Linked DNA regions of Homo sapiens. Each later gene encodes a partner of the first gene's protein in a complex. Each region holds a gene or a part of one and is shown on either strand. Other genes may lie near its edges. The genes, in order: SNIP1, CWC22, CRNKL1 and DHX16.

The links.
Region 2: SNIP1 (region 1) and CWC22 share a complex: the UniProt entries of both Homo sapiens proteins name them as parts of the minor spliceosome.
Region 3: SNIP1 (region 1) and CRNKL1 share a complex: the UniProt entries of both Homo sapiens proteins name them as parts of the minor spliceosome.
Region 4: SNIP1 (region 1) and DHX16 share a complex: the UniProt entries of both Homo sapiens proteins name them as parts of the minor spliceosome.

What each region holds. Positions count from the first base shown.
Region 1 is NC_000001.11:37,544,284-37,551,309, reverse strand, and holds part of SNIP1 (smad nuclear-interacting protein 1), read left to right. Parts: intron 1-5,851; exon of another isoform or gene 5,852-6,747; intron 6,748-7,026. UniProt on the Homo sapiens protein: Required for pre-mRNA splicing as component of the spliceosome. As a component of the minor spliceosome, involved in the splicing of U12-type introns in pre-mRNAs. Down-regulates NF-kappa-B signaling by competing with RELA for CREBBP/EP300 binding.
Region 2 is NC_000002.12:179,948,274-179,955,299, reverse strand, and holds part of CWC22 (pre-mRNA-splicing factor CWC22 homolog), read left to right. Parts: intron 1-265; coding exon 266-343; intron 344-942; coding exon 943-1,095; intron 1,096-2,701; coding exon 2,702-2,829; intron 2,830-4,373; coding exon 4,374-4,475; intron 4,476-4,567; coding exon 4,568-4,788; intron 4,789-7,026. UniProt on the Homo sapiens protein: Required for pre-mRNA splicing as component of the spliceosome. As a component of the minor spliceosome, involved in the splicing of U12-type introns in pre-mRNAs. Promotes exon-junction complex (EJC) assembly.
Region 3 is NC_000020.11:20,035,467-20,042,492, forward strand, and holds part of CRNKL1 (crooked neck-like protein 1), read right to left. Parts: coding exon 6,859-7,026; intron 6,160-6,858; coding exon 6,100-6,159; intron 5,301-6,099; coding exon 5,220-5,300; intron 4,383-5,219; coding exon 4,143-4,382; intron 2,985-4,142; coding exon 2,883-2,984; intron 2,106-2,882; coding exon 1,857-2,105; intron 897-1,856; coding exon 729-896; 3' UTR 1-728. UniProt on the Homo sapiens protein: Involved in pre-mRNA splicing process. As a component of the minor spliceosome, involved in the splicing of U12-type introns in pre-mRNAs.
Region 4 is NC_000006.12:30,662,994-30,670,019, forward strand, and holds part of DHX16 (pre-mRNA-splicing factor ATP-dependent RNA helicase DHX16), read right to left. Parts: intron 4,335-7,026; exon of another isoform or gene 4,192-4,334; intron 3,821-4,191; exon of another isoform or gene 2,902-3,820; intron 2,741-2,901; coding exon 2,486-2,740; intron 2,282-2,485; coding exon 2,078-2,281; intron 2,000-2,077; coding exon 1,808-1,999; intron 29-1,807; coding exon 1-28. UniProt on the Homo sapiens protein: Required for pre-mRNA splicing as a component of the spliceosome. Contributes to pre-mRNA splicing after spliceosome formation and prior to the first transesterification reaction.

The DNA.
Region 1 (7,026 bases):
TTGTGATTTTAATTTGCGTTTTCCTTTTTTTTTTTTTTTTGAGACAGAGTCTGGCTCTGTCACCCAGGCTGGAGTGCAGTGGCACGATCTCGGCTCACTGCGACCTCCGCCTTCTGAGTTCAAACGATTCTCCTGCCTCAGCTTCCCGTAATTTGCATTTTCCTAATGGCTTATGATATTGGACATCTTTTCTTTGTGTGTCAGTGTGTGTGTGTGTGTGTGTGTGTGTGTGTGTCACCCAGGCTGGAGTGCAATGGCGTGATCTTGGCTCACTGCAATCTCCCCTTCCCAGGTTCAAGTGATTCTCCTGCCTCAGCCTCCTGAGTAGCTGGGATTACAGATGCCCACCACCACGCCCAGCTAATTTTTTGTATTTTTAGTACAGAAAGGGTTTCACTATGTTGGCCAGGCTGGTCTCAAACTTCTGACCTCGTGATCTGCCTGCCTCGGCCTCCCGAAGTGCTGGGATTACAAGCGTGAGCCACTGCACCTGGCCTTGGACGTCTTTTCATGTGCTTATTTGCCATCTATATGTATCTTCTCAGGTGCAATGTCTCATGTCTTTTGCCTGTTTATTTTTTATTTTTTATTTTTTATTTTTTGAGACGGAGTTTCACTCTTGTTGCCCAGGCTGGAGTGTAATGGCGCGATCTCAGCTCATTGCAACCTCAGCCTCCCAGGTTCAAGGGATTCTCCTGCCTCAGCCTCCCAAGTAGCTGAGATTACAGGCTCGTGCCACCATGCCCAGCTAATTTTTGTATTTTTAGTAGAGATGGGGTTTCGTCATTTTGACCAGGCTGGTCCTGAACTCCTGACCTCTGGTGATTCACCTGCCTCAGCCTCCCAAAGTGCTGGGATTACAGCAAAGTGAGCCACCATGCCCAGCTATCTTTTGCCTGTTTTCTAATACTATTATTTGCTTTTTTACTGTTTAGTGTTTAAGAATTCTTTTTATATTGTGGATACTAGCCCTTTGGGGATAAATGGTTTACAAATATTTTTTCCCAGTCTGTAGCTGTCTTCATTTTCTTAACAGGGTTTATCTCAGAGCAAAAGTTTTTAATTTCAATGAAGTCCAGCTTATCTGTTTTTCCTTTTATGGATTGTGCTTTTGATGTCATGGCTAAGAACTTTTTGCCTAGCCCTAGATCTCTGAAATTTTCTCCTAAATTTTTTTTCTTAAAAGTCCATGATCTGCTTTCAGTTTCTTTTCAGGGTTTCAGGGTTTTTGTTTTGTTTTGTTTTGTTTTGTTTTGTTTTTGTTTTTTTTGCCTATGAATGTCCACTTGCATCAACACCATTTGTTGAAAAGACCATCTTTCCTCCAATGAATTACTTTTGCTCTTTTGTCAAAAATCAGTTGGGCATATTTGTGTGGGTCTATTTCTGGAATCTCTGTTCTGTTTCATTTGTCAGTGTCTGTCACTCTGCCAATACCACACAGTCTTGATTACTATAGCTATATAATAAGTCTTGAAATTGTATGGACTGATTTTTCCCATTGTAGTCTTCTTTATAAAAATTGCTTTAGCTATTCAGCTTCTTTTTTCATCCATGTAAGTTTTAGAACAATCTTGCCTCTATTTTTAAAAAGTCTGGGCCGGTCACAGCGACTCATGCCTGTAATCCCAACACTTTGGGAGGCTGAGGTGGGCAGATCACTTGAGCTCAGGAGCTCCAGACCAGCCTGGGCAACATGGTGAAACCCATCTGTACAAAAAATACAAAAATTAGTTGGGCGTGGTGGCATGCCTGTGGTCCCAGCTACTCAGGAGGCTGAGTAGCTCCTGAGTGGGAGGATTACTTGAGCCTAGGAGGTTGAGGCTGCGGTGAACAGTGATCATACCACTGCACTCCAGCCTGGGCGACAGAGTGAGATCTGAAAGAAAAGTCTTGCTAGGATTTTGATAGGATTTGTGTTAAACTGGCGTTTGGGGGCAATAATTGACTTTTTACTATGTTAAATCTTCTAATCCATGAACATTGTGTATCTCCCCTTTTATTTAGATCATCTTTGATATCTTTTATCAGTGGTTGTAGTTTTCAGCTTATAAATCCTATACATATTTCTTTGTGGAATGATTATAAAGGGTATTTTAAATGAGTGTCCAAATGTTCATTGTTACTATATAGAAATATAATTCATTTTTGTGTGTTTATCTTCATCCTATATCCTTGCTGAACTAATGTATTCTAGTTTTTTTTTTTTTTTAAGATTACTTGGGATTTTCTACGTAGACAATCATATCTACAAATAGGGACAGTTTTATTTCTTCCTTTACAATCTGAATGCATTTTATTTCCTTTTGTTGTTTGCATTAGTCCGTTTTCATGCTGTTGATAAAGACATACCCGAGACCCGGCGATTTACAAAAGAAAGAGGTTTAATGGACTTACAGTTCCACATGGCTGGAGAGGCCTCACAATCATGGTGGGAAGCAAGGAGGAGCAAATCACACGGATGGCGTCAGGCAAGGAGAGATAAAAGAGTAATGAGAGCAGACACTCTTGCCTTATTCTCAATTTTGAGGGATGAGAATTCAGTCGTCTTTTTTTTTTTTTTTTCTTTTTTTTTTGAGACGGAGTCTCGTTCTGTTGCCCAGGCTGGAGTGGCGCAATCTCTGCTCACTGCAGCCTCCGCCTCCTGGGTTCAAGGGATTCTCCTGCCTCAGCCTCCCAAGTAACTGGGATTAGAGTCTGGGCCGATCACAGTGGCTCATGCCTGTAATCCCAGCACTTTGGGAGGCCGAGGCGGGTGGATCACCTGAGGTCAGGAGACCAGCCTGGCCAACATGGTGAAACTTCGTCTCTACTAAAAATACAAAAATTAGCTGGGTGTGGTGGTGGGCGCGTGTAATCCCAGCTACTTGGGAGGCTGAGGCAGGAGAATCACTTGAACCTGGGAGGCGGGGATTACAGTGAGCCAAGATCGCACCACTGCACTCCAGCCTGGGTGACAGAGCAAGACTGTTTTAAAAAAAAAAGCAAATTTTAAAAGACAAATAACAGTATAACAACTATTTATATAGCATTTACGTTGTATTAGGTATTATAAATAACCTAGTGATGATTTAAAGTATACAGAAGGATATTCACAGATTTTTATATAAGGAACTTGAGCATCCTAAGATATCTTTTTTTTTTTTTTTTTTTTTTTGATATGGAGTCTCGCTGCGTTGCCCAGGCTGGAGTGCAGTGGTGCGATCTCGGCTTACTGCAAGCTCCGCCTCCCGGGGTTCACGCCATTCTCCTGCCTCAGCCTCCTGAGTAGCTGGGACTACAGGCGCCCGCCACCATGCCTGGCTAATTTTTTTGTATTTTTTTTTTAGTAGAGACAGGGTTTCACTATGTTAGCCAGGATGGTCTCCATCTCCTGACCTCGTAATCCACCTGCCTTGGCCTCCCAAAGTGCTGGGATTACAGGCATGAGTCACTGCACCTGGCCCTGAGATAATCTTTTTTATCCACTGGGGATCCTGGAACCAATCTCCTGAGGATACCAAATGATTACTTTATTCTTTTCTCAACCTCTGAACCACCATTTTGTGTTTTTTTTTGGTTGTTGTTGTTGTTTGTTTGGTGAAGTGTTGCTCTGTTGCCCAGGCTAGAGTGCAGTAGTGTGATCTTGGCTCACTGCAATCTTTGCCTCCTGGGTTCAAGCGATTCTCGTGCCTCAACCTCCCCAGTAGCTAGGATTACAGGCACGTGCCACCATGCCCGGCTAATTTTTGTATTTTTAGTAGAGACGGGGTTTCACCATGTTGGCCAGGCTGGTCTCAAACTCCTGACCTCAAGTGATCCACCTGCCTCAGCCTCCCAAAGTGCTGGGATTACAGATATGAACCACCGTACCCAACTGAACCACCATTTTCGAAACAAATGTATTGATTACATGCTCATTGTAATAATACAGAGGTATGTAAAATATAAAATGAGAGTATGGTTTACTTCTCTCGTCCCCAAAATTGCACCACCTCCTCAACCAAAAAACCTCCACCTCACTTGCCAGAGGTAATCACTATGATATAGACTCTCTGTCCATCATCACATGGCCTTCTCCCATGAATCTCTCTATCTCTTCTCTTCCAAGGTCACCAGTCACGTGGGATTAATGACCTATATTACTTCAGTATGACCTTAATTTATTACATCTGCAGTGACCCTCTTTCTAAATAACGGAGAGATAAACATTTGAGACTCACCTGCATATAGGTGTATGTAAAGTATTAGGATTAGATGAAAATTACTAAGGAAATGACTGTAGATAGAAGAACAACCAACAAAGGACTGAATCCAGGGGCGATCCAGTGTGAAGAAATTGCAGTGACATCAGCAAAGAAGACTGGAAAGAAAGAGAAGCAAGAGAATCTGGTAACTTGAAGCCATTAGAAGGAAGTGTGTTGAGGATAGAGTGATTAACTCTGTTAGATGCTGCTGATAGTTAAGTGAAATGAAGACTGAGAATTGGCCACTGGATTTAGCAACATGGAGGTCACTGGTGATCTTGACCAGCAATTTTAGTGGAGTAATAAGGGTGAGACCTGATTGGAGGGGTTCAAGGGAAGACAGAGGAGAGGAATTGGGAACTGAATTTTTAAAAACAATACTTTTTCTTTCTTTCTTTCTCTTTTTTTTTGAAACAGAGTCTCACTCCGTCACCCAGGCTGGAGTGCAGTGGTGCAATCTTGGCTCACTGCAACCTCCACTTCTGGCGTTCAAGTGATTCTTCTGCCCCAGCCTCCCAAGTAGCTGGGACTGTAGGCACGTGCCACCACATCCAGCTAATTTTTGTATTTTTAGTAGAGATGGGATTTCACCATGTTGGCCAGGCTGGTCTTGAATCCCTGACCTCAAGTGATCCACCCACCTCAGCCTCCCAAAGTGCTAGAATTACAGACATAAGCCACCACACCCGGCCGTTATGGCTTATTATAATGACTCTTAATAAGGGATAAAGGACATGATGAGATTAGTCCTGGTGAACTCAAGGCAGATAGCAGTGGCAAGCTTGTAAATGTTTTGGAGTAGGAAGGGTGGTTGTCTGAGGCTCTCTCTTGATGCATGTCTGTGCTAGGCTAGGAAGTCTAGAAAAACTGAGTCCCACTCTAAGCAAGCAGCCCCTCACTTGAGCCCTGTGTATGGCAGGGAGCGGGGGGGGGGGGGGTCTTAGTCCCAGTGCTTCCACTTTTAGGGTATTGCGAATAATGCTGCAATGAACATGGATGCTCAAGTATCTATTTGAGACCCTGCTTTCATTTGTTTGGGATATCCAGAAATGGGATTGCTGGATCATATGGCGATTCTATTTTTAAATTTTTTATGGAACCACTGTACTGTTTTCCGCACTAACTATACCATTTTACATTCCCACCAGCAGTGTACAAGGGTTCTGATTTTTCCACATCTTTGCCAATACTTGTTATTTTCAGTTTTTTGATAGTAGCCATCCTAATGGGTGTGGAGTCACCTAAATTTTTAGTTTTTAATTTTATTTTTATTATTATTTTTAGAGAGGGCGGCGGGTGGGTCTCACTATGTTACCCAGGCTGGTCTCGAACTCCTGGACGCAAGTGATCCACCCGCCTCGGCCTTCCAAAGTGCTGGGATTACAGGTGGGAGCCACTGCGTCCTGCCTGCCTAATCATTTTTATTATTATTATGTATTTTTTAAATTAGGGGCCATGCTAATTTTTGTGTCATTCTAATTTTCTCCCTAATCATTTTGAAAGTCTCTTACTGCTCTCTGCTTTAAAATTTTTAACCTTAATTATCTGTAAACATTTTTGTACCTTACCTAGTCCATAACAAGAAGTTTTTTCTTTGTTTTTTTTTTTTTTTTGGTGGGGGCGGGGGGTACCAAATTTCTTTATTTGAAGGAATGGTACAAATCAGCTTAAGTGGATGTTTTGGTACAACTTATAGAAAAGGTAAAGGAGACCCCAACATGCATGCACTGCCTTGGTGACCAGGGAAGTCACCCCATGGCTATGGGGAAATTAGCCTAAGGCTTAGCTTTCATTATCACTGTCTCCCCGGGGTGTGCTTGTCAGAGAAATATTCTGCCAAGCCAGATTCGGGTGCCCTCATCTTGCGCAAGTTGGTCACATGGTCACCCAATTCTTGATGGATTTCCCCTGCTCATTCAGGTAATGTGTTTCAGTGAAGTCACACAAATGGGGGTAATTTTGTCGGTGGCCAGTTTGTGCAGTTCCAGTAGTGACTGATTCCCAAGTTTTTCCAAATGTAATGCATGCTCCATCGCATTCAGCCTGCTCTCCCAGTCATCATGGTCTGGTTTCTTGAAGTCCCGAAGGAAGAAGATTCAGCCACCTCATTGGTTCTGCAGCTTCATCAGTTTCTTGGCATGTTCCCTCTCCTCATGAGATTGGTGAAGAAAGTATTTGGCAAAGTTCTTCAAAGCCACATCATTGTGGTCAAAGTAGTAAGACATGGACAGGTAGATGTAGGAGGCATAGAGCTCCACGTTGATCTGGCGGTTGATGGCGGTAGTTCTGGCGCACCTGCGAGGGGGACGCGCAGTCGTCATGGTGGTGGCCACGGTGGCTGTGCGGCGGTGGCTGCACGGCGCTGGAGTGGCGGCGGGGGCCTTGGGACAGTCAGAGGGCCCAGTGAAGAGGTAACAGAGGGCTAGCTATGGGCGGCCAGCCGGAGTGGGGTACGAGTGCCTGGTTCCGTCCAAGCACTGTTGAACCAGGAAACTCCAGGGACTTTCCGCAAAGAACGTCTCATTTTTTTCTTTTTGAAACAAGAATACACAACAACATTTTTGTACATGAATGAAGTCCTTGGGGATCTACATCTATAAGACTTGTTTCTTTCTTTCTTTTTTTTTTTTTTTTTTTGAGACAGAGTCTCATTCTGTCCACCCAGGCTGGAGTGCAGTGGCGTGATCTCGGCTCACTGCAACCTCCGCCCTCCGAGTTCAAGTGATTCTCCTGCCTCAGCCTCCCAAGTAGCTGGGATTACAGGCGCCTGCCACCGCGCCCTTCTAATTTTTTGTATTTT
Region 2 (7,026 bases), on another chromosome or scaffold:
TTGATGTGGTTCATACTTATCATGAATTTAGAATTTTATAATTAATGTAATTAGCATAAATGACTGTGGAAGCTGTCAGCCAGACCCAAGCCTGTAAAAAATGATGAGTTTAACATAGATTGAGGTTTTTATTTTATTTACAAAATTTTTGAACTGTTTTAAACCCTTATTTAAAAATGCAGGCAGTCACTATCATACTGGTAAATTATACAATATTTAGTCTCTTTGTGTTTTGAATCATTAATGTATTTTTTTTCCCAAATAGAAAGAACTCTGCAACATGATACTTGATTGCTGTGCCCAACAGAGGACATACGAAAAATTTTTTGGCTTATTAGCTGGGGTGAGTTCCAGCCTCTACTGAGGGAATTCTTAAAACGAATATTGTAAATTAATGATTTCTGCTTTATGGTCTGGTCTCATTTAAAAACATATTACCACTTTTGCTAAAAGCAAATTATTCTCTCCTTCCTCAGGTTTCCCACTCTCTTCACCTTCCTCTTTTTCTACTTCATTTTTGCAGTGCTTTAACTTTGCATATCACTTTTCCAGAGCTTTTTGGAATTTTCCATGATTTGTAATGATTTCCCAATAGACGACAAGTAAATGCTGTCTTTTCAAAATCTCAAAGCAGTGTCTAAAGTCAAGTACATGTTCAGGCAGCACAATTAAAGCATGATCTAAAATATTTCTTTAAGCTCTACCCTCATGTGATCACCTACATGTATGATTTTGTTTTAACATGTAAATCTCAGGTAATTAGAAACCATATATATTAACTTCTTTTTTGAGCATCATATGGCACAAAAGGATTTAGTGATATATGCTCTTTGAAAATATAAAGCATATTAATAAAGTTTTGATTCAGTAAATTTAGGATTTAATATGCTCATAATTGTATTAACATTCAATTTTTAATGGTACTGATTTTTTATTTATTAGCGATTTTGCATGCTAAAGAAAGAGTACATGGAATCCTTTGAAGGTATATTCAAAGAACAGTATGATACCATCCATCGCTTGGAAACAAACAAGTTGCGAAATGTTGCTAAGATGTTTGCTCACCTTTTATACACTGATTCACTTCCATGGAGTGTAAGTACATGGGTCAATATTTATACTTCCTTCCTAATTCCCTGTTCTCAAATAGATTTTCGTATAAGCTAGCCATATTTATCCTATTATGAAATGTGCTTTAAAATGAAATGTGTAGAACTGCTGTCTTTGAGATTATCATCATGTTATAAGGAATCAGAAAGCTAGGTAAATAATATACAAGAAATACTATCTTTGTATTATATTAACAGTCCAAACATGCCAGTGTTTCGATAGTGATGGCTAGGAGTGTCTTCAGGAAAAGTACTGCAGATTTTCATCTTCTCTGTGTACACACACGTGCATGCACACTCACATCCACATATGCCACTATTTTGGTGGTAAATGTGTCTCTGAATTACTCTCCCTTGATTCCTGAGGGAATAACTCTCCATGGTTCTCTTGTTGGGTTTGAGAAAAAATGATTGTTCTAGAAGGATGTGTTCTTTTTAGCAGACATTGAAGTTGGGTAAGCTATAGAGAGGATATCCTATAGTCATAGAACAAAGAAAGATATATTCTTGATAGGGAAATGTGCACTGGATTGAAATTTGAAAGGCGTTCATTAAGCTGGCATTGATTTTACAGCTGTTTTTCAACCAGTGTTAGTTAGCCACCACTTATATACTGAGTCATTGAGAGAGGTGCTGTGTATTCAGAGTGAATTATACATGGCCCCTCCTTTCAAGAGGGTTACAGTATAAGACCAGAGGTAAGATATGCCCATAGCAATGATACAAAATAAAAAGTCTTAGATTCTAAGAAAAGCAAAATTACTAAAGGAATTTGAAAGAAAGAAAGAGAGAAGGATGAGAAATTACATCCAGGAGGAAAGAACAGGATTATCTTGTAGAATGCCATCCTACTAATGGTAGAATGAGGCAATATCTCAAACTTAAAAACATTGGTTAGATTTTTATAGTACTTTAAGTACCAAGTATGTCCAGCTACATTAATAGGCATTCGTAATCTAACCTAGGAGACTAATTGTAATAATTTTTGACTTCTTTTTTCCCCTCTTTGAGAAAATGAAGTGAGAATTTTAAACAATTAACCAACTAATGGGCCCCCCAAACACATAACCCATAAAAACTAGAGGTTACTTTTATTTTTATTTTCCCTAAAAATATTTCTTTAGGCATTTCAGTTTTTAAGCCACAGTCTTAATATTCAGAATAAACCATTATACTTTCTGTCTTTTTTTAAATCGTATGTTATGTGTGCTAAACAAAATTGTAGCCTAATGTGCTAAGTGGCATTTTGCCCCAAACCTTCATATACACCACATTTTGATGAGTAAGGTTTAGGAGCTAGTAATCTTTACCATTATATGCTCAAGAGAGGATATCTTCCCTGCTATAAAAAGCACATTACTCAAAACAGAGAATGAAATCTATTTCTGTCGCATCTTAACATTTTGAAAGTTAGTATAGAGAAGTAGTTTTAAACTTTATGTCAGCATAAGGGGAGATATTCAGAGATAACTCTGGTTGAAGATGGGAATAAATAGTAATTTTGAGAAACACTTAAACCTACAAATATTGGTCACTATGTCCTGTCTTTTATAAATTAAAATATACTTGTCTTTTTTTATTTTAATTTTCAGGTTCTTGAATGTATAAAACTGAGTGAAGAAACCACTACATCATCCAGTAGAATTTTTGTCAAAATATTTTTCCAGGAACTGTGTGAATACATGGGTCTTCCTAAACTTAATGCAAGATTAAAGGATGAGTAAGTTTGCCATTAAGCACTTTTTATTCTTATTGACCTCTGGTTTTCTCCCATTGTAGCAGACATAAGCCCATCCGAGACTGTAAAAACAAGAGCTAAGCCCCCTGAGACTTTCTTCATCCATTAATCACTGTGAATTTCATGTTATGTCACACAGGACAACATGCAACTTTTAGTGGTGGTTTTTAGTTTAAGTGGAGTTCAAATTAATGCCTTTTTAGATTTTCTTAGAAAATACAGAATTGTTTTTGTATGCTCACTTGAATTCTCCAGTGATATTTATAATTTTATTTTCTTTTTACCCTAATTTTAAGCCTTAGAATGATAACTAATATTATCAGTGGACAGTTTTGAGTATATATTTCATCTATTAATAATTGTTCAAAATATTACATAGAACTAGAGCCTTATTTCAGGATTATTATGTAATCCCCTCTCACCTTTCTTATTTCCTGTTTGTTCAGATTGCCACTTAGGTTGACTTCTACTCCATTGACACTACTGAAATCATCCTTTCAGATTTCTCAGTGACCACCTGCCATATTCAGTTGTCTTTCTCAGGCTGCATGCCTCTTCACTTCTCTGCCTCACTTATGCAGTTGACTACCTACTCACTGTGGCTCCATACTTTCTTCTCACTTCCTCTCTCAGTCTTCTCCTCAGCCTGCCTCTTCAGTGTTCCTGGGTTCCACACACTGTCTCTGGACTATTCCATCCACTTCTCTTGGCTTCATATACTTACTTATTTGGTCCCTGTCTACTTGACCAGGCTCGTCTTCTCTCTCTTCAGCAAGCTGCACTCCAGCCATACCAACACTGCCAAGCTTGTTAAACATATCTGGCTCTTTCATGCTTCCTTACCTCAGTTTCCACTGCTGGCATTCTCCTGTCTTATTGATCTATCTGGGAAACTCTTAATCATTCTTCTTATATTGTACCTTTTTCTGTGAGAAAGTTTTTTCTGACTCCACTGAGTAGTTACTCAGTGTGGTGCTGAAAACCAAATGTCCAAAACCACCTTGTATTGTTAGTGTCTTTCTGGTTGTCTCACTCCATATATATTGTAATTATATGGTCTTCATCCTTGATTTCTCCCTTTTGTTGATGACTTCCACCTCTCCCCCAGTACTTGGCACAGTTCTATGTATGTGTGTGTACGTGTACATACACAACAGAGAAGGTTTTTAAAATTTTTTGTACATATATTCACTATATATACGTGTGTGTATATATATACACTATATATATTCACACGTGTATATATGTGTATATATTTATCTTTCTATATGTGTGTGTGTAAAAAAAGTTTTTTAAAAACCTCCTACATTGTATAATGATAGAAATCAAGTTTGGTACATTATTACTTGACCCTACTCATTTCATTTAGATAGCACGTAGCCTAACCTAATAAATGACATCAACTAGTTACTTGGTTGTATTTCATTTAGTAATTTAATATATGAAAAATCTGAAAAATGACTAAGGATTTTACCTTTTTATCTTTAAGCAATGTGTTCTCTTTTGTTTATTTTTTTCCTTTTTAGAACTCTGCAGCCATTCTTTGAAGGATTATTACCCCGAGATAATCCAAGAAACACTCGGTTTGCCATCAACTTCTTTACTTCTATAGGTCTTGGAGGTTTAACGTAAGGATTATTCTCAGAATTTATGTTCAGATTATAAAATTATCTCATAATTGTCTTTGAAATAGAATCTAACAGATTATATTTTAAATTAGGGATGAACTGCGGGAGCATCTCAAAAATACACCAAAGGTCATTGTGGCGCAGAAACCAGATGTTGAGCAAAATAAATCCTCCCCATCCTCTTCCTCTTCAGCGTCCTCCTCTTCAGAGTCTGACTCATCCGACTCTGATTCTGACAGCAGTGATAGCAGTTCAGAGTCTTCCAGTGAAGAGAGCGACTCTTCATCCATCAGTAGTCATAGCTCTGCCTCAGGTATTGAAGCTTATGTGTAATTTGGCTTGCTCTTTTCTAATAAATATGTTGCTGATATATATGAAGGAAGAAAATAATTTGATTGTTTATTTGTCTTAGAGATCAGTTGTTTAAAAGCCACAATTAATACAAATGGTCCCATCTATCATTCTTGCAGTCTGTAATACAACATTTATAATGCTGGGATTACCTTTTGACATCCTCATCATAGAAATGAAAATATTTCATTCGCAGATACTTATCTGAGTGATGACTGATATGAACCATCCATTCATAATGTTTGTAATCTAGTTTATAGGAGCTATCCTGATGTTTTTATTTTAAATAAATTTTAGTTTTTTACTTTTAATATTAAAGCTGTTTGTAATTGAGATATATCATACATTCATTGTGGATCTCAGATGCTATATGAATTTTTATAAAGGGAACACATCCTCATAGCTAGCACACAAATCAAGATATACCGGTACCCCAGAAGTTCTCTGTGTTTCCTCTCCCAGTTACTACTCCTTCCATCCTCATGGCAGCTACTATTCTGATTTGTAATTTCATAAATTAATTGTGCCTGTTTTTACCTTTAGCATTATGTATTATGGACTCCTTTTTATGTCTGGCTTATTTTTTTACCATTATGTTTGTGAGATTTAGATGCATTACTGCATTTAGTTATAGTTAATTCAGTAATATTGCTATGTAGTTTCCTACTATATGAATATACCACAATATATATTTATCATTTTTGCTCAACAGACTTTAGATTTTCAAGTGATATTTCCATGTATATTCTTGTACATATCTTTTGATGACCTTATTTATTTATTCACATTTCTACTGGGTATGTACCTATAGGTGGAGTCAGTGTGTCATAAGATGTGCATATATTTAGCTTTGGTGAATACTGTCAGTTTTCCAAGTGGTTATTCCTATTTACACTCCCACCGGCCATGTATAAGAGTTTCATTAGCTCCCATTCTCATTAATACTTCAAATTGACCGTCTTTTTCATTTCAGCCATTCTGGTGGATGTGTAATGGTACTGCATGGCGGTTTTAGTTTTAATTTGCATTTCAACTAGAGAAGTTAAATGCCATTTTATCCATTATTGGCCATTTGGATTTTTGTTGTCAAGTGGCTGTTCAAGTATTTTACCAATTTTTTTTAGTTAAGTTGTTTTCTCTGTTGATTTGTAGGTTTTCTTTACATATTCTAGATATGATATCTTTTGTACATATATGTATTGCAAATAACCAGTCCCATTCTTGTCTCTCTAGCCCTGCAAGGCTACCAGACCTCTGGTGTCTCTGTCCCTCAGTAGCATCCCTGAATCAGCAGATGCTCCCAGGGAGAAAGTAGCTGTAGAACATCACTTACTTCTCAATGTTTCTGCTTTCTCCTGCATCTTGGCCCCTCTAGTACTTGTTTTTCCACTAGCTCTCTGATGCCTTTATATTTTTTACTTTGTAACTGTAACCTTTTATTCTGAGCTAATTTTAGATTTAGGAAAGTTGCAAAAACAGTACAGAGAATTTCCATATACTCTTCATTCCAACTTCCCCTAATGGTAGCATCTTACATAACACTGGTTCATTTATCAAACTAGGAAATTAGCATTGGAACAGCATTATTGACTAGACTACAGATGTGATTTGAAAACCAGTTTTACCACTAATGTCGTTTTTCTTATTTCAGGATTCTGCTAGCATTTAATTGTATTCTCAGTTTTCTGCATTCTATGATAGTTCCTCTCGGGCTTTCCTTGTTCTTAATAGCTTTAACACTTTTGAAGTCCTCTGGTCACTTATTTTGTAACCTGTCCCTCAGTATGGAGTTTCGTCTGATGTTTTCTCCTTATTAGAATGAGATTAGACATTTTTGGCAAGAGTACATTAGAAACAATGTGTTGTTCTTAGTGCATCTTATCAAGAGGTTCATAATTTTATTTTGGGTGACAACCTTGATCACTTGAGTAAGGTGGTGTCCACTGGATGTCTTCAGGGAAACTATTTTTCTCTGTGAAAATGTCTTGTAGGGAGGTAACTTGATACTATGCAAATCTCTTTTTCCTCCAGCTTTTACTCACTAATTTTAACATCCATCTTTGGATGGTTAAAAAATCACCTAATGGTGATTTTTTATTTGTCTGTTTTCTTCTACATCTAGTAATTGAATTTCTTCTATAAGAAAGTATTGTCCCTCTTCCCTCATTTATTTATTTAGTCAACTGTAAATATCAATATA
Region 3 (7,026 bases), on another chromosome or scaffold:
CTAACTGAAATTATTAGACTAAATTCTTAGTAAACAATGTTTTCTGAACCTTGTTCAGAAATATAATCACTGCAAATTATTTTCCAAGTGTTGTTCTAAAAAACAATATAACTGGACACTAGTAAGAAAGTAAGGTAAATTATTAATCCACTCGCATTCAATTCTACAAGGAATGAAACCATTTTTAAAAGTGGCTTAGAACAAACAATTTACTGAGCACTTACTATGCACCCACCAGGTATATTCCTTTTATAATGTAATCTTCAAAATGAGCTGTCAAACTATTGGCCCATTTTGTGAATGAGGAAAATGAAAATTAAGTTATATAATCATGAGTGGCAGAGCTGGGAAATGAACTCAAGTCTGTGACTCTGAAGACATGAAAAAGTTACACATTTCAGATGAATGCATAAACTATCTTTATGGGTATGACATGAAAAGTAACTGTAGAATGTTACCTTAATTACATTTCCTAATGCATGATGTGGACAGACATTAGAAAAGTTTGGACTCAGTTGGAAAAACAAATCCAGCAGTTAAAAAAGTCCTTTACTTGCAATCCCTACCCCTAGCTAACCCAAGAGCATTTAAAAAATAACTTAAAAAGTAGCCATCAAAGATACCAATCAATTTCTTACTGGTGAAATATATAAGAACTTCCAGGAGTCACAAGAGTTCCAAACAATTAATTTATAAAAATAACAAAACATTTGTCTATGAAAAAAAGATCAGGATTCACTCTCATCGACGTCCTCATCTGGATGGTGCTCAGCATCCTCCTTTTCCTGCTGCTGTTTCTTCCACAGTTTGGCCATGGCCAGGAGTTTGAGGTTAGGTTGGTTGGCAGCATCTTCTGGAAAGATGTAATCAAAGTATTCTTCCCAGCCTGCATCAGACTACAGAAATAAAAAATGAAAAGATAAGCAAACGTGGGTGATATACTCACATATCAGAGTGAAGAATTTTTACTGGAAATCCGGATGATTACCTCCATTTTACAAAATAACATCAAAGTCTACTACAGAAAGAACAAGGGCTGGGTCTGAAAGACTGGGAGTGAGTAAGCAGCAACTGTAGCTCAGTGAGAACTAAACTGGTAGAAAAACATTCTAAAAATCTAAGCACAGCTCCTCTATAGCCAACCAAGATGTTCAGTGTCTCCAACTACATTGTGCAGTCTTACACTTAAGAAAACGTTTAACGATCTTTACATAATATTCACCCAGTAGCAAAAGCCATACATCTGTGCATTATTATTCCAACTCCCTACCTTCCCATCCTCACCTCCTATCAGTCACTGATTTCACTTCCCAAATATTGTTCTAACAGGCCCTGTGGCCCTGTTCTAGTTCCAGCTTCCATGTCTTGCTCAGCTTATAAAAACTGCTTCCTGATGGGTCTTCTTTCTCCAATCTAAGCCCCTTGAGTCTGCCAGGATGAGAGGCTAGCAATCTGGTCACGTCATTTTATGCAAAACAGCCTTCACTGACTCCCACCAAACTCCTTCTTACCGCCTACAAGCCTTCTCTGGATAGGCTCCTATCTGAAAGTTCAGTTCCATCTTCCTCCACACTTACTTCCTATTAAATGCTCTAAAAATATCACACTTCATGAAGTTCCCAGACTCAACCATCACCAAAACACCTTTGCCAACCCCTTCCCGTTCTCCACCTCTGACTGGACCATATGTTCTACCCCGTGTTTCCATAACAGCCAGATTGCAACCATCTCCTACTCCAGGTGGTCTGCTTCCATTCTAAGATTGTACATATGCCACTTAAAAGTCCACATTTCGACGTCAGAAGTGTTTCTACTCATGTGACGTGAGATGAACAGTCCCAGGGCAGAGTTCTTACCCCATCATCAGTCTGGACCTTTCTTCTCTTCTTGACTTTCTCTGGCATGAGTTTGTCTACTCTCTCCTTATCTGAAGCTGTTCCAAATTCTTCTTCAAAACTTCGCCAAGATTCCAGCAGCATAAGTCTCTCTTCCTTTTCTTCACAGTTTCGCATGGTTTTGTTAGCTTCTTCATAAATTTGTCTGCATTTAGTCAAACTTCCTTCTTTTCCTGAAGACAACTCAAACTGAGCAAAGCTGATCCATACCTTTAAAAAAAGTTATTATTGAACCAAATTAACCATATCACTCAGAAGATAATAATGTAGTAATAATAAAGCGAATTCCCAGTTAATGACATCGGAAAGTAATGTGTGCATCACTAATGTTTCACAGATGAAAACAATGAATATATGCTTCAATATAAACACTGAAAATATTTGATTCTACATTCTACAATTAAATGTCTGACATAGTCTTAAACTCTTGAAAAGAGTTTAACTTGGCTGGGTGCAGTGGCTCACGCCTGTAATCCCAGCACTTCGGGAGGCTGAGGTGGGCAGATCACGAGGTCAAGAGATCGAGACCATCCTGGCCAACAGGTGAAACCCTGTCTCTATTAAAAATAGAAAAATTAGCCTGGGCATTATGGTGCGCGTCTCTAGTCCCAGCTACTCTGGAGGCTGAGGCAGGAGAATTGCTTGAACCTGGGAGGCGGAGGTTGCAGTGAGCCGAGATAACGCCACTGCACTCCAGCCTAGAGACACAGCAAGACTCCGTCTCAAAAAAAAAAAAAATAGTTTAACTTTTTTTCAATCTTGTGATACCCAAGCTACTCACATGCAGCATAAACAATGACCTGGTATAAACTTAACATTCCAAACATTCCAAAGTCCTCTGAGACTCACGTTTCTCTTGAAAAGCAAGGAAGTCATTAAAAAAAAAAAAAAAACAAAAACCCAAACACTTAAAATACAGAAATATATCATTTTCTTCTGGACTGCTGATTCAAGCAAAATGAAAGATCATCTACAAAGCAAGGATACCTTGACATGCTGCGTCCGTTGAAGCAACCGCCGGTAAAGGTTTCGTGTTCTTTCTGTTTCTTCCTGCTCAATTTCAAAATCAATATATGATTTCCAAAGCACCTAAGGAAGAAAAGTAAATGGGTCAGTCTTGACATTTACAAAGCAGCATGCCCCCATCCAAAGCACAGCTGAAGTATCACTCTAACCTACATCTAGGAACATAGGATTTTTACTGAACAACTAAAGAACACATGTGGATAAGATAAATAACATTGGTATCTATAAGCTGGCCAAAACTTGGCTAGAATTCCAGATTACAGAAAAAGGGCCTTGGATTCAGTCTTAGAGATTCTCTTTGGAAGTTTTTCAAATGCTTGACTTATCAAGAGCTGAGAAACTTGCCAAGCATCTCCCAGGTACTCCATATTCTAGCCACACGCAATTGAGCGTCCAGAGAGAAAACAGGCCCAGGTTAGCCAGTATGCATGTTCTTACCTCTACTGTACATTCCTTGTTATTATGAGAGTTCAGTGCAACAAGCATTCACTGAACAGGTGCGCACTGGCTCGGTGCAGCCTGGCAGGGAATAAGGATGAATAAACCGTGGCATGGACACCTGAAAGCTGGCAGTCTGGTGGAGGAGCCGAGGACAACTGATGAACTCAGTGATACCCAAAGCCCTGCCTTAATTAATGCAATCAGGGGGCCAAACCATTAAATGCAGGGTCATGTTAGTGCATGAGATTAACAAAACGGCTGGGTGAGTTCTACGACTCATGTGAGATTCAAATCTTTCCTAGCTGTGGTTTGGTGCTACCTTGTGGGTCAAGCTTAACTACTGAAGGCAGGCGAGGACTTTCAGGACAGTGACAACAGAAGTTGCAAGGACATCCTGGTTTAGAGAATACAGGGATGTGCAGTTCCTACCTCCATCCCCCTCGTTCTCCGGGTGGGCCAGCCTGCTGGCTTCTTCCTTGCCTGGCCTCTTCCCCAGCCCCTTTAGGCTTTCCTGCTGCAGAAGGGGCGTCACCCACCCCCATGATATCCCAGTTCATCCTGGGCATCATCCTGGATGTCTACTGCTCTGGTATCTAATGAGAGGGCTACTTCCCCTGTCCCCCACAGCCACCTTTCCACGTACAAGCCTAATCTGAGTAGAAGAGACTAAGTTAGTTAGATCATCGTTATACTCTAAAATACACCCACATTTAGATGGTCATCTAAAGTAAGACTAAACACGTATCTCAAACAAAATTATATTTGACTTGAGATGCTCACCTCTGGCATGTCTAAACGTGGCTGACTGATGGCTAATTCATAGATTGCCCGTGCTCTGTCAATATCACCAAGGATTGTCTCTAATTCAGCGAATTTAATCCATGAGGTACAATTTTCAGGTCCAAATTCCAGGAACTTTTCATAAAGCTTCCGGCATCTGTCAAATTCTCGAAGCTGTAGCTCCAATTCTATGTAAACTTTAAATAATTTGTTCTTTGGACATTTGCCTATGGAAGTTCCCTGGAAAATAAAATAACCAGACCACTGTGATACTGTAGTGGATTTAATCTGTGCAGTTATTGCACTGCCCTAGAGGCTGTTCTCTGCTGAGGAAGAATCTTGCAAAGTCAACATGGCCTACCATTCTTTCCCTCTGTGGTATCACAATGTTTACTGGTTCTTGACAAAAGGCTGAAGGAAACTCCTCTAATTCACTCAGCAAGAGGCAGTGTTCCAGAATTGTTTGGGCAACTAAATAAAATAAGATTTGAAAGTTTCTCAGGATCTCCTAGGGAATAGGGATGTCAAATGCATAAAACCTCCTATAAATAAAAAGGACAAGGCATGGTGGCTCATGCCTGTAATCCCAGCATTCTGAGAGGCCAACATGGGAGGATCATTTCCGCCCAGGAGGCAGAGGTTGCAGTGAGCCAAGATCGCGCTACTGCATTCCAGCTTGGGGAACAGAGCGAGACCCTGTCTCAAAAAAAAACCAAACAAACAAAAAAAAAAAAAAGAAAAAAAAAGTGGAACAATTAAAAGTGCATTTAACACACCAAAAAGTTTGCACAGGATCAGATTACTAATTCCAGTCTGTGGAAAGATTTAGTAACTGGTAGCTATAGAAGTTTCCAATATTGAAACAGAATGTTAATTTGCCCCAGGTAATAAGAATAATTTACGCATTATTAGTCAGTGTTTTTACAGAGGACGCATGTTTTCTAACATGTCCCAGGCTATAAAGGTATAATACTTCTGTCACTCTTTAAAGTAGGAACTGTACAACTTCCAAGCACCAAGATTTTAATTTCTTTCTCATAGAACTTGATGAGACATCTTGATCCTTTCTTTACTTACCAATGCTCTTCTGGCTAATGACAGATTCTTCTGTCGTATTTCAAACTGTGCATACAGTATCCACATTTTGGCAAATGTGAACTAGAAAACAAAAGCACAAAAATATCTAGCTTAAAAGCCTCATCCAAATTAAATTGAATTAAAATTAATTTAAATTAACCAAAGCCATTGGTAATTCGATTTCTCTAAAACTTCAGAGTAAGAGGAATGTACTCTGCTTATTTACAAGCAAAGACCACATTCATTTCACAAAAGTTAGAAACCCACATACCATGATCCAGATACTATATTGTACTGCATGGCATGGTAACCTCTCCTGAGAACCATGATCCAGATACTGTACTGTACTGTATGGCACGGTAGCCTCTGCTCAGAACAGACTTTGTTTTGTAGGCATGCTTGTATATGGGCAGAATGTCCTACCTCTATTCTGAAAAGTAACTCAGTCAACACTTCTACAGAAGGAAACACGTTTTGTTTCTCGTGCTGGGAAACAAGGCGGAGGTAACATCTCAACCATCTACACAAGGGGCACATTCATCTGTGCATGCACACACTCACTGTTACCAACAAACCCGCCTGTGTGTCCCCCGCACACGTTGTGTGCTCTCTGCATGGATGTCTTTCTCCTTCCACTCAGACTATTCACATTACCTAGCCTTCTCTGAATTTATATTATTTGTTTGTCAATGCAGGTTGTCCTCCAACCTAGTCTGTGAGCTGTTTTCAGAGGCAAGGAGCATATCTCAGTCTTATTTATGTTGTCCATGGTGGGACAGGGAAGCATTTTATCAATCAATATTATTTCACTGAATTACTTCACAAGTAACAGAAGAGGATTCTGACCTGTTTGAAATGGAACACTTTAGAGCAAACATACCTTTTTGTGAGGAATTAGTTCCAAAGAGGCTTGATACACCTGTCTTGTCCTCTCAGGATCCTGTATTAGGATAAGAAATTTTCACAAAATATTGAAGTCTGCTGCTAACACTCATTTTACTAGTTACTAATTTTACTGATATTGGTAAAAATGTACACCCCCAAAACAGCATGTTTCACAAGTTGTTACTTGCAAACCCTGATTTATGATCTAAAGTATGAACGGCCATGAAACTTCAGTTTAAGAATCACCAACAAGATAGCCACCAAACTTCTAAGCCCTTCTTTGTAGAAAGCCGTTTTGCCTGATGGCAGAAAGAAACAAAGATGTTTCATAGTCTCAGATCAAACCCAGAAGGTTAATACAAATGATTTCTGAAAATGCCACTTGATTTTTGCTAAAAGCAAAAATGCATAATCTAGCCAGAATTACTCCTATTAATGAGCAAATCCAGGAAACTATATTTCACTAAATTAAGGGCTGGTTCACTGTTCTCTTTCAAGCTCCAAGTGATATCTTGTTGTGCCTCAAGTAAAAATCAAACCAAAGTTAAAAAAGCCCCTCACGTGTGGCCACAACAAGCACAGAGGGTTTAAAATGTTGCAGAGCGAATATATAACTGTATGGATGAACAGAAGCCTATAAAAATTTAAAACTAAATTTCCTTCTTTCAAGAATTACAAACATCCACAATAGGTGAGCTGTGAATACAGAAGACAGGAAACCATTATCAGCTGACACATAATTCTGTTTTTTCACCTTTGCCTCCAATTCTTCATAGAGTGCATAGTTGATCCAAAGATAAATGTAGCGCTTCCAGTGCCTCTTCTCCTGAATGGGTGGGACATTGGCAATGGCCCTTTCATAGACTTCTCTCACGGCTTCAGCTTCTGCGTCACTTTCTACCAAGCGCAAGTAATCAAACCA
Region 4 (7,026 bases), on another chromosome or scaffold:
CAATCTTCATACCCTTGTTTGTATAACCCTGAATGACAAAGAAAAAAGAAGAAGTTTGCCCTTTACTAAATATGCACCCTGGGACCAGGTACATTTCAGAGAAAGAAGTTGTAAAAACCAGGCAGGAGAAAAGGAGGAAAAGACAGATGCTGAAAACCAGAAAAGAAGGGCAAATAGATAGGATGACAGACCTAGGGCCCTCAAAGGGGGTCCTCACCCAGCTCTGGGTAATTAAGTTCATGACTCTGCTAGACTTGAGCTGGAAAAGAACAGATTAGCTGAGACAGAGCCAGCTAAGGTAAAAAAGCAGGAAGGCTGGGCACAGTGGCTCATGCCTGTAATCCTAGTACTTTGGGAGGCTGAGGTGGGAGGATGGCTTGAGCTCAGGAGTTCGAGACCAGCCTGGGCAACATAGTGTGACAAAAAAATTAAAAATTCAAAATTTTGACCAGGCACAGTGGCTCACACCTGCAATTCCAGCACTTTGGGAGGCCGAGGCAGACGGATCTCCTGAGGTTGGGAGTTCGAGACCAGCCTGGCCAAAATGGTGAAACCCCGTCTACTAAAAATACAAAAAATTAGCCGAGCATGGTGGTGCATGCCTGTATTTCCAGCTACTTGGGAGGCTGAGGCAGGAGAGTCGCTTGAACCTGGGAGACAGAGGTTGCAGTAAGCCAAGATCATGCCACCGCACTCCAGCCTGGGCAACAGAGCAAGACTCTGTCTCAAAAAAAAAAAAAAAAAAATTTCAGGCCAGGCACAGTGGCTAACACCTGTAACTCCAGCACTTTGGGAGGCTGAGGTGGGCAGATCACGAGGTCAGGAGATTGAGACCATCCTGGCCAACATGGTGAAACCCCATCTCTACTAAAAATACAAAAATTAGCTGGGTGTGGTGGTACGCACCTGTAGTCCCAGCTACTTAGGAGGCTGAGGCAGGAGAATCACTTGAACCCAGGAGGTGGAGGTTGCAGTGAGTCAAGATCGCGCCACTGCACTCCAGCCTGGTGACAGAGCAAGACTCCACCTCAAAAAAAAACAAAAAATGTTTAATATGGGCATGGTGGTGTGCACCTCCCAGATACTCAGGAGGCTGAGGTGGGATGATCTCTTGAGCCCAGGAGTCCCAGGTTGCAGTGAGTCATGATGGTGCCACATCACTCCAGCTTGGGCATCAGAGCAAGAGCCTGTCTCCAAAATAAGGCAGGGGCTAGGCACAGTGGCTCACACCTGTAATCCCAGCACTTTGGGAGGCTGAGGTGGCTGGATCACTTGAGGTCAGGAGTTCGAGAGCAGCCTGGCCAACATGGTGAAACCCCATCTCTACTAAAAAATTAGCCAGGTGTGGTGGCGCATGCCTGTAATTCCAGCTACTCTGAAGGCTGACGCAGGAGAATTCCTTGAACCCAGGAGTCAGAGGTTGCAGTAAGCCAAGATCGCACCACTGCACTCCAGCCTGGGTGACAGAGCAAGACTCCGTCTCCAAAAAAAAAAAAAAAAAACTAACAAAAAGGCAGGAAAATAGTCCTTTAACTCCTTGTTTTTTGGCCACGTTGGAGCATAGGGAGGTCCACATTTATACACGCCCCACTCCACCTATCCATCTACCCGTCCTTCCAAATGAAATGAATGCAGGAAGTGAGAACAGAAATGTGAAAAGGGTATGGTCTTTACTCTCAAGAATTTCACAATTTAGTGGAAAAGATAGGTAAGTGACTACTAAAAATATAATGTAAAAGGAGCTCTGACAGGAATGAGGACATTGATGCCAGGTGCCCTGGCAAGCTGAAGGGTGAGATGACTGTACCTCCTCAAAGAGATACTGCGGGATCTGGGTGGTCTTCCCTGAGCCTGTCTCGCCTTCAATGATGAGGACTTGGTGATTTGCAATAGCAGCCAGGAGCTCCTCTCGAAATGGGAACACCGGGAGGCTGCGGCGGACGGCCTGGATGGACTCTTTCTGCTGGGCCTGAGTTGAAGTGGGTGGAGCTGACGGCTCCTAAGGAAAGAGAAGGAGGTGTGAGCTAAATAGCTCGCTACGGGTCTTCCTCAGAAAGTCTCCCAGCTCCCCTCTTACCTCATCACCCTGGAGCTGAGTGGCCCGGACAAACTCAATGGTCTCCTCCTCCTCCAGCACCAGTTGATACTTGGGCTCCTGAGAGGCAGCATCTCGGGCCCCAAACTTCAGGGACGCTGCCCCAAGCCGCGCCTCCTCCCAGCGCCGCTGCTCCTCCCCAGGGGCTCCTGATTCCTCCTCCACTAGATCCACAGCTCGGGCTGGCTACAGAGAGAGGGGATATGTGAAGACTCAAAAACAGGATGTCCTCTCTGCCCTCTCCCCTCTTCCCATTACTACCCCCGCCCACTGCCCATTGGGAACGGCAAGGCAAGAAAGGGGATGACCCACGTGTTGCCCAATCCCCTGAAGCCTTCCCCACAACTTGTCTTGGGGACCAAGGCTGAAGCAGACGCCGCTTCACCTCACCTGTCCTCGGGTTTCCTTGGGCATGTGGTAGCGATTGGTGGCCTCCAGCTTCTCCTGCTCCCCAGCTGCCCGGTACTCCCGGGCGAGATCCCGCACTCGCCGCTTATATTTGAGCTCCTGCCGCTCGTGCCGGCTCAGCTCCACGTCCCCAAAAAGGAACTCCTCATCAGCCAGCTCCGCCTCCAGGTCCTCAAGCTTCTCTCGCTCCCGCTTAGCCAGGTACTCTCGGCGAGATTTCTTCCGCAGCTCAGGGACCTGAGTTGGGAAAGGACAGTCGAATCCTCATCTTGCTGGAGGAGCAACCCCTTTCTCTACCAATCCCTACAAGGGAAAAATCCCCTGACAGGCAGGCATGAGAACCTCAGGATGCACCCTCTACCTTCCCTCTGCAATGCACAACCAAAACAATGACATACTCAAATCTGGGCCTCTTTGGATGCTACATGCTGACCCCACATCGTATCTTCCTGCAGCAGAATCCAGCTGGAAAGTCCTCTTAGGCAGCATTATCATCTTTGTTAATATAGATGCACTAGGGAGATGTCTGCGTAGCTTATATTTTACTCTTGCCATTTTATTCAAATTAGTGGAAAGGGGGAAAATAAAAGGCTAATCCAGCATTTAGAAGCACAGGACTCAAACCGAAAACAATTCAGACAAAGATAGAAACCAGTGAGGGGGCCAACAGGAGGCAATCTTCAGCCCCAGTTAGATGTTCTTTGGTCTTAAACGGAATGACTGTAGTTTGAGGAAGGGAGAAAAACTGATTATAAAAAGTTAGGACTACAGCATCAGAGTGTTTCTGTAAGGCAAATGTAATCAGGGATGTTTGGCTTTCTGGTACTAACCTCTCTTCACCATGCTGTGTCTCACTTAGTTTCTACACATTTACCTTTGATACAAACTTTTCAGGACACATTATGGATGACAGCAGAAAACTGGCAATATCTATAAGGCCCTTTCCTGCCAGGAGTCCTCCCACTATGACATCATCCTCTCTGTGATCACAACTTCCTCTACTGCAAGGTCAAAGCCCCTCTGGTGGCTGGGTGGGCGTGGTGACTCACACCTGTAATCCCAGCACTTTGAAAGGCTGAGGTGGGTGGATCACCTAAGGTCAGGAGTTAGAGACCAGCCTGGCCAACATGGTGAAATCCCGTCTCTACTGAAAATACAAAAATTAGCTGGGCATGGTAGTGGGCACCTGTAATCCCAGCTACTCGGGAGGCTGAGGCAGGAGAATCATTTGAACCCGGGAGACGGAGGTTGCAGTGAGCTTAGCTCACGCCATTGCACTCCAGCCTGAGCAACAAGAACAAAACTGCATCTTTAAAAAAAAAGCCCCTCTGCTGTTCTACCCTTAAGGGGCCTGGTTCTATTTAGTTGTTTGGCTTTTCTTGTTTGTTCTGTAAAGACTTAAAATGCAGTTTATGATCATGACCTAATCTGGGTACCACAGTCAAATATTCCTTCCATGGAAGAGCCAGATAGATTTTTTTTTTAATATGGGCAAAAAATCAGAGCCATTTGAGCATTAAAAAGAATAATGATGTGAGATTATAAAATACTGAAAAATAAAAATTCATGAGTCCAATTTGACACACACAAACAAAAAACAAGGGAAAAAAATCTGTCACCAGTGAAATGACTGTTACAGCAAACGCCTTACTCTAAAAATTCGTATTTAAAAGGAAACAAACATTTACCCTTTTTAAGAAGGAACTGTAGCTTGTTCCTAGTTGTTGAGGAAAAGCTCTTCTTTATAGACAAATTCTAGCCAATACACGTAACAGGAATGACAGAATCAAAAAATCACCATTTCGGCCGGGCGCGGTGGCTCACGCCTGTAATCCCAGCACTTTGGGAGGCTGAGGCAAGAGGATCACGAAGTCAGGAGATCGAGACCATCCTGGCTAACATGGTGAGACCCCATCTCTACTAAAAATACAAAAAATTAGCCGGGCGTGGCAGCAGGCGCCTGTAGTTCTAGCTGCTCAGGAGGCTGAGGCAGGAGAATGGCATGAACCCGGAAGGCAGAGCTTGCAGTGAGCCGAGATCGCACCGTTGCACTCCAGCCTGGGCGACAGAGCGAGACTCTGTCTCAAAAAAAAAAAAAAAAAATCACCATTTTGCAATCCCCAATAAAAATAACATGTTCAGGAAAGGATTACCAGTGGCTTCTAAAAGCATTTGATGAAAGGCTATTGGTAGAAAGGATATTAATACTAATATATAGATACACAACTGGATAGTATGTCCCCGTGATATGACATAATATGAAGTGCACATCACCGCCCAAGAAGTGTTCCTGCCACAACTGTTTAATCTGAGTGTCAATAAGCTTTAGACCCAATTCCTGCTTCAAAGAAAGCACAGGGCAGAGAAGTACTTAACACCACAAGATAAGAATCAGGCAAATCCAGAATGTAGGACACTGCAAGGTGAGACAGACAGAGAGAGAAACAAACTTAACATCTAAGACCCAAATGCAATGCATGAACCTTGACTGCATTCTTGTTAGGAAAAAGCAGTCATTAAAGTTATTTTGAGGGTAATGAGGGTATCTTTTATTGTAGAGAGATCTTAGTCGATACATAAGAATTACTGTTCAACTTCCTGACTGTGACAAGAGCATTCTGATTTTAGAGGACAATATCTTTATCCTTAGCAGGTACACACTGATGTACTTAGAGATAAAACGCCATGATGTCTAAGACTCTTTTAAATGGTCTGAAAAGAAAAAACATACCACATTTACAATTACAATGCAAATACTACCCATAGTATTAACCATTTTTCAATCTGAATAGTGTCTATGAGTGTTCTTTGTTCTATTCTTTCAACTTCCCTATGTGCTTAAATATTTTTGTAATCGAAAAAGAAAAATTACAGCTGGGCACAGTGGCTCACGCCTGTAATCTTAACATTTTGGGAGACCGAGGGGGGTGGATCGCCAAAGGTCAGGAGTTTGAGATCAGACTGGCCAACATGGTGAAACCCTATCTCTACTAAACATACAAAAATCAGCCAGGCATGCTAGTGCATGTCTGTAGTCCCAGCTGCTCGGGAGGTTGAGGCAGGAGAATCACTTGAACCCGGGAGGCGGAGGTTGCAGTGAGCCGAGATCATGCCACTGCACTCCAGCCTGGGCGACAGAATGAGATTCTGTCTCAAAAAAAACCCGAAAAATTAAATTCAGGCCAAAACAGTAACACCACTACCACCACAACTGCACTGAGATGTCCCAGAAGCCTAACCACAGTCAATTTCAGGAAGAGATATGAGATAAATTGGTCAGGAGAGACCTGGGAACCAGTAGGCCATTCTTAGAACTCCAAAAGTTGGCCGGGCACGTGGTGACTCACGCCTATAATCCCAGCACTTTGGGAGGCCGAGGCAGGTGGATCACCTGAGGTCAGGAGTTCAAGACCAGCCTGACCAACATGGAGAAACCCCATCTCTACTAAAAATACAAAATTAGCCAGGCGAGGTGGCTCATGCCTGTAATCCCAGCTACTCTGGAGGCTGAGGCAGGAGAATCGCTTGAACTCGGGAGGTGGAAGTTGCAGTGAGCCAAGATCACGCCACTGCACTTCAGCCTGAGCAACAAGTGCAAAACTCTGTTTCAAAAAAATAAATAAATGAATTTTAAAAAGTAAAAACGGCCAGGCGTAGTGGCTCATGCCTATAATCCCAACACTTTGGGAGGCCAAGGCGGGCAGATCACAAGGTCAAGAGATCAAGACCATCCTGGCCAACATGATGAAATCTCCTCTACTAAAAATACAAAAAATTAGCCGAGTGTGGTACTGCAGGCCTGTAGTCCCAGCTACTCAGGAGGCTGAGGCAGGAGAATCGCTTGATTCCTCCACCAGGGAGGCACAGGTTGTAGTGAGCTGAGATCGCACCACCACACTCCAGCCTGGCAACAGAGTGAGACTCCATCTCAAAAATAAATAAATAAAAATAAAAAATAAAACAAAACAAATAAAAAGAAGGCTGGGCATGGTGGCTCACGCCTGTAATTCCAGCTCTCTGGGAGGCCAAAGCAGGTGGATCACAAGGTCAGGGGTTCGAGACCACCCTGGCCAACATGGTGAAACCCCGTCTCTACTAAAGGTACAAAAAATTAGCCAGGCGTGGTGGTGTGCGCCTGTAATCCCAGCTACTCAGGAGGCGGAGGTTGCAGTGAGCCGAGATCGCATCATTGCACTCCAGCCTCGGTGACAGGGCAAGACCCCGTTTCAAAAAAAAGAAAAAAGGTTTAAAAAAAAAAAAAAAAAAAAAAAGGAACTTCAAGAGTCTCAAAATTCTATTGGGGTATTGGGGAATCTAAGTGTGACTTTACTTGACAAGACCAGGCCTTTGGAAAACAGCTTACCCTACCTAGTTTCACACCATAAAAAGTCCAGTTTATGAATTACAAGGGCTCTGTCCCTGTCCAGTGAGAAGACACAGGGAGATCACAAAGCCACATAAGGGGTGCAGGAATTAGGTGGTGGGAAGGTATTTGGAGATGGTGTGCCTAAGCTGAATGGTCA